2 linked regions of the Homo sapiens genome follow. The protein of the gene in region 2 purifies or fractionates together with the protein of the main gene of each other region. This does not show direct contact. Each region holds a gene or a part of one and is shown on either strand. Other genes may lie near its edges.

The links. The genes of interacting proteins can lie anywhere in the genome.
Region 1: the proteins of PLCD4 (region 2) and BRPF1 purify together in Homo sapiens (affinity purification with mass spectrometry; one large-scale study listed by BioGRID and IntAct). This does not show direct contact.

The regions. Positions count from the first base shown.
Region 1 is NC_000003.12:9,734,735-9,738,234, reverse strand, and holds part of BRPF1 (peregrin), read right to left. Parts: coding exon 3,496-3,500; intron 1-3,495. UniProt on the Homo sapiens protein: Scaffold subunit of various histone acetyltransferase (HAT) complexes, such as the MOZ/MORF and HBO1 complexes, which have a histone H3 acetyltransferase activity.
Region 2 is NC_000002.12:218,634,787-218,637,675, reverse strand, and holds the end of PLCD4 (1-phosphatidylinositol 4,5-bisphosphate phosphodiesterase delta-4), read right to left. Parts: exon of another isoform or gene 1,881-2,889; coding exon 1,745-1,880; exon of another isoform or gene 1,434-1,744; coding exon 1,284-1,433; coding exon of another isoform or gene 1,206-1,283; coding exon 1,099-1,205; 3' UTR 501-1,098; downstream 1-500. UniProt on the Homo sapiens protein: Hydrolyzes the phosphatidylinositol 4,5-bisphosphate (PIP2) to generate 2 second messenger molecules diacylglycerol (DAG) and inositol 1,4,5-trisphosphate (IP3).

The DNA.
Region 1 (3,500 bases), on a different chromosome or scaffold from region 2:
AGTGGCAGAGGCAGAGGCATTCAACCTCCAGCCCAGTGCTCTTAATGTCCAACCTGTATCACTTACTATGCCAACAGGCCTGGAATTGAGGGCTGCTCTCGGTGCTTGTCACACAGAGAAGGTGCTCCTTGCCTGGCATGCTATAGGTGGCCTAGACTCTGGCACTGTAAACTACAGGGTACAAAGGAAGGGATGGGGCTTTGGCTTCTAAGCAAACCAGATTTAAATCCTGCCTCTGCCATTTTATGACTTTTAGGACATCACTGCTGTACTAAACCTCAGTTTTACTGATGACAGAACGAGGATAATACTACCCACTCACAAAGAAACTGTCAGGGTTATATGGAATTATAAAAATGAATAGGCCACAAACTCTTGGCCTTTACATTTATTTATATACTACCTTGCCCAGTGCCTACTACCCCATCAGGCTCCAGCAACCCCCAGCAGGCCCATGGAAGGAAGTGTGAGCACCTTGGTGTAAAATGCCACCTAACCACTAAGTCATGTGTGACCACATACAGACGTGTGCAAATATGTACATTTATCTTTTTATTAAAAAGTTGTTTTGAAAAATGAATGAGCTAAGTCAAGTGGCACACAGCAGGCCCTAGAAAAACATTAGCTCGTTTCTCCTCTTATGTGGGAAATGGAACTTTGGCTGCTAGAGTGGGCCAGCACACACAGGCTCTGGAGCCACACTGCCTGGGTGCTGTCTAACAGAGGGCAAGTGAGCTAAGCTCCCTGAGCCTTGTTTGTTCATCTGTAAAGTGGTGATGCTAATAATCTGAACCTATTTCACATAGCTATTCTGAGCATTAAATGAGTTAATGCAGGTAAAGTGCTTAGGACAGTGCCTGGTGTGCAGCAAGCACTCAATAAATGTTAACTTATTAGTTTTTGTATGGCCTTTACCCACCTTCCTAGCATTATAGCTGTGTATGTGTCTAACTCCTCCACTACACGATAGAAGTGGGGATTGTGTCTGATTCGCCATACAGATACAGGCACTCATCACTGTTCATTTGAAAGGCATTTTGGGGGTGGAAGGGAGGAGAGAGACTGAAACATTGTAGGAAGCAGCTTCTTCCTTTTTAGCCTTTTACCTCTTCCCCAAGGTGACTGCAACCTCCCTATCTTTGAACAAGGGTATGACTCATGGATGGTGTGAACCATCTGGCTTCTTCCAGGCCTTGGCACCAGCTCTCTTCAGCACCAATTCTCACCCTTTTCTCTGCCATGACACACGTGACATTATGTGATGGTGCATAACACACTCCCACAGGCACCCAGATTACAGGCTGCAGTACAGATAAGGTAGGCTGCATGTCACGTATAATTCCTGGCACACCAGCTGACATGCCACCCTCTCTCTCCCCCTCAAGGAAGCATATTAGAATGCAAGCAAGAGAAAGTGATGCTATTAGAGAGATGACCTCAAATCTTCTCAATTTATATAAAAAGTAAATCGTTTCCAAAACTTGGGCAGTTTTACCAACAGTGGTAACAAATTCCATGCAATACACATCTCAGTTGTTTGCAGTGTACCTGCTGAGAACTGCTCCCCTGAAGAACATATCTGATCCCCAGAAAGAAAGAGTCAGTCTAAGTGGAGGGAGGAAGAAAAGCAGCTGAATGAGCTGGGCTGGGCTGCCTGTTAGAGCAGAGAGAGCTCAAGGGCCATTGGGAGGGAGGGGAAGTCCAAAGAGGGGTCTGTGTGTTTGGAGTAGGGCAGAGGTGGGTAGGGCAGTCAGTGTGAACAGAAAAGAGAAAGACTGTGGAAAGCCAGAAGGAAGTGGAGTTGGACTGAAAAGATGAAAGAATGGGAGAGGAAGTGGGAGATGGGCTTAAACTCAAACAGTGGAGAGAAGAAAGTGCTACAGGCCATATTGCTTGTTTCCAGATTTGCTTTTAAAGAACTGAGATTTAGGCCGGGCGCGGTGGCTCATGCCTGTCATCCCAGCACTTTGGGAGGCTGAGGCGGGTGGATCATGAGGTCAGGAGATCGAGACCATCCTGGCCAACATGGTGAAACCCCATCTCTACTAAAAACTCAAAAATTAGCTGGGTGTGGTGGCACGTGCCTGTAATCCCAGCTACTCGGGAGGCTGAGGCGTGAGAATTGCTTGAACCCAGTGGAGGTCGCAGTGAGCCGAGATCACGCCACTGCACTCCAGCCTGGGTGACAGAGCGAGACTCCGTCTCAAAAAAAAAAAAAAAAAAAAAAAAATGGAGGTTTAACATCATGTGGACTGCACTTTTGGTAAAAAATGCTTTTCATATAAAAGCTTTTATGACAAATCCTCCTCAGAGACCAGGCCTTCTAAGTAGCTGAAAACAAACTTACACTCTTGGCAAATTAACTCATCAGAATGCCTTTTTTGCCTTGGATGCCAACTTTCAGAGAGGTTTTACACTTGGTTTTAGTGCCATCCTTCAGCCAGGATTTCTCCATGTAGTTTCAGCACCACACTGCCCCCCATATCCCTTCATCTTTTACCTCATGTTAAAGAAACAATTAAATGACAAAAATAAAAGGGCCACTGGAGGAGTATTAAATATTGTTTAAGTATAAAATACTGCTTAAACATGTTAAAGGACAGATGACAATAACAGAACAAATAGTGGGAGAATTACCTCTGCAGATTTACAAAGTGCTTTTAGTACCTTATGAAATCAGTGATCCTAGTCTTCTACCTTTTGGGAGACAGAGAAATACCGTATCTGCTCTGCAGATGGGGTCCTTAAAACACACGTTAATTTGGATGCATTTCCCAAGGTCATGCATAAGGAAATGGAGAGGACCAGGAATCAGAAACAGGATGTTTTGCCACAGTGGAAACAGTACAGCTATGGAGTCAGAGGGACCTGAGTTTGAATCCCAGTTCAGCTATCTACTGGCATGTGATTTCAGATAAGTCTGGCCAGGCACAGTGGCTCACGCCTGTAATCCCAGCACTTTGGGAGGCTGAGGTGGGTGGATCACTTGAGTCCAGGAATTCAAGACTAGCCTAGGCAACATGGTGAAACCCCATCTCTACAAAAAATTTTAAAAACTAGCTGGGCATGGTGGCATGTGCCTGTAGTTGCAGCTACTCAGGAGGCTGAGTGGGAGGATCACTTAAGCACGGAAGGAGGAAGTTGGGGTGAGCCAACTGCACTCCAGGCAGGGTGACAGAGCCAGGCCCTGTCTCAAAAAAAAAAAAAAAAAAAAAAAGGATAAATCTGGCACCCTTTCTTGACCATAGTTTCCTCATCTGTGAAATGAGAAAAATACCTACCTGAGAGTTTTGAGAATAAAATAAAGGAGTAGCGTGTGGCACTGTAGAGTAAGTGCATTAGTGGCGTACCATTCCACTCACTGCCCTGGCAAAATCAGTGTTCTTTCACTATTCTTTATTCCTGTCACTCTTCTATCTGTGCCTCTCACCTCTCTCTGGCTAGTGAGCCCTGCTTGACCAGTTTTCCAGAGCTGCAAGGTAGAGGTGGCCTTACCGGTA
Region 2 (2,889 bases):
TACCCACTAAGCCTCCTCCTAGAAGCAACTTTAGCTCATCATCAATCCTCAGACTGGCTCAGCAGCTACACTAAGGTGTTAAAGCACAAGGATACTATGGAAAGGCAGATGACTAGAGAGGAAAATCTCCAATTCAGAATTCTATAACTGCTTCACAGTATAATTCTGTAGTGCCTTACTATATAATTGATCATCTAAACTGAGACACACTGGGAAAACTTAAAGAGGGTACTATTAATAATTATGCTGGGACAACAGACATAAACCAGGATGGTTCCAGCCAGACTCTTCAGGAAGGCTGGGACCACATAACCTTTTGTCTGCTTTTGCCCTGATTCTTAAAAGCCATACTCTGTGTCCTTCCTATGTAGCACATGCAAGAGGTCTCCTGGGAACCTCTTTCTCTACCTTTTCCTTGTCTCACCTGACTACCCAGATGTCCCCACAACCCTTGTACCTCCCCTTCTTGCCCAACAATGACAGACCATATTGAAGCCAAATTGGAGAGAGATGTATTTATACCAGTGGGGCTAAGGAGGAAGCAGTCCAGTGGGGGACTTTGAGTGCTGTGCAGTGTTCTCTTAAGAGTCGTAGTACAGTCCTGGGGTCAAGTCTCTTTCCCTAATCTTTGCTGGGGAAGCCTTGAGCCTTGATTTATCCTTCCCTTGGCTTTGGGCTTTGAGGAAGTTGGGGATGGAGGGGATGATGCTTCTTTAGGTTTCTCTATTCCAAGCCCCTCTGAATTTCTAGTTGCAACCTGCCTTCACACAGAGTTGATGGGAAAGATTAGTTGTAGATGTCGGTATGGGATTGAGCCTACAGCAAGAGGAAGAAGGGAACTCCAGTATAGAGTACACAAAGGAAAAGGGCAGGAAAGATACCAAAGGCTTATGAAAACAAAGGAAGGGAAGAAAAGAGAAAAAAGGTGGAAAATCAGGTCCCAGATTGCTTGTTAGGAAGAATGAGGTAATTTTGTGCCTAGGAATGCACAATCCAAAGCTTGATTTTCACCACCTCCATTTGTTCTCTCGAGCATCCTTCCAGATGTTTCTCCCCGTCTAAAGCCAGCACACCAACCCTTCCCGTGAAATGCCCACCTCAGGACTCATCCCCCTCCAGGCCTTCCTGGATGCAGATATACACAAAGATGGAAGCTGGGCGGAGGCTGATGCCATCTTTGGACAGCAGGTGAATGTGGCGGTAACCTGGAAGGGGCAGGAGGACAGCATTAGGAAGGCAGCCAGAGCTGGGGTATTGGCCAGGGGCCAAAGGGGCTGGCTCACCTTGTTGCATGCAGGTCCAAGGCAGGGTGTACTGACCAATAAAGTCATTTCGGGATTTCCAGTCATAATCCATTACCACAAAACGCAGCATGGCAAGTTCAGGCACCAGCACCCGGAAACATAGTGTCTGCCCCCAGTATGGATTAAAACCTGAGTTGGTGGACAGAAAGAAATAAGAAGACATTATGACAGTTTTCTTGACTGGGTTGCTTTTCTTGTGTTCTCATTTAATCTAGATGGCAATCAGCATTTTACAGGTAAGGAAAAAGGCTCAGAGTAAGCAAGTAATTTGCCCAGGTCACTGGAGCTTTTAAGTGAAGAGCCAGGATTCTTTGTACTGTTCCACACTGCCTCCCATGTGGGGACATGCAATAACAGATGCTATACTTAATGGAAGACAGACTAGAAGGAAAACTAATCATGCTCCTACCCCCACCTCCCCAGCACTGCCAGTTTCTCACCATTGTTCTCCACATAGTTGGTCTCCTGCCGTGCTGTGTCTAGACGAACGCCAAAGATCTGCACTTTCACCAGTGGATCCACAATGGACCCCTCTTTGGTCTTGTCCACTTTGGGGAGTTGCTGACCGCTGATCACCTGTAGTCAGGGCTCTGGAATCTCACAAGTTCCTGCTCAGCCCAGCCCCACCCGACCCTACTCCCAACCCCAGGGGAGAAGAAGCTTTTTGGTTTGTAAAACATCCTCCATGGGTAATATATTTTCTTCTAGTATTCTATCTGCAATTTAAAATGCACCCAAAGGCCGGGCACGGTGGCTCACACCTGTAATCCCAACACTTCAGGAGGCCGAGGTGGGCAGATCACTTGAAACCAGGAGACCAGCCTGGCCAACATGGTGAAACCCTATCTCTACTAAAAATACAAAAATTAGCCAGGCATGGTGGCGGGCGCCTGTAGTCCCAGCTACTCGGAAGGCTCAGATGGGAGAATCACTTGAACCCAGGAGGCGGAGGTTGCAGTGAGCCAAGATCATGCCACTGCACTCCAGCCTGCAGCAGAGCAAGACTCTGTCTCAGAATAAACAAATAAATTAAATGGATCCAGGTAGAAATTCAACAGTTTGAAAGTAGGCATGCTAATGACAGCAGCCACTTTTTTTTTTTCAAAGAGACACGATCATACTCTTGACCAAGCTGGAATGCAGTGGGGCAGTCATAGCTCACTGCAACCTCCATCTCCTGGGCTAAAGTGACCCTCCAGCCTTAGCCTCCTGAGTAGCCAGGACTATCTATAGTCATGTGCCACCATGCCAGGCTAATTTTTAAATTTTTTGTAGAGACGGGAGTCTCTACAAAATTTTTAAATTTTTTGTTGAGACCAGTTTCAGACTGGTCTCAAACTCCTGGGCTCAAGCAGTCCTCCTGCCTTGGCCTCCAAAGCGCTGGGATTACAGGTGTAAGCTATCGCTCCCAGCCAGCCTCTTTTATAGCACTTCCTGTGTGCCAGGAATTGTAAGAACTTTATATTAACTGTTATACTCCTTATAACCCTGTGAGGCAGGTGGTAGTGTTACCCCTATTTTGCAGGTGAGCAGACTGAGGTATGGAGAGGTTAAGGAACTTGCCCAACATTACCCAATTAGGAAG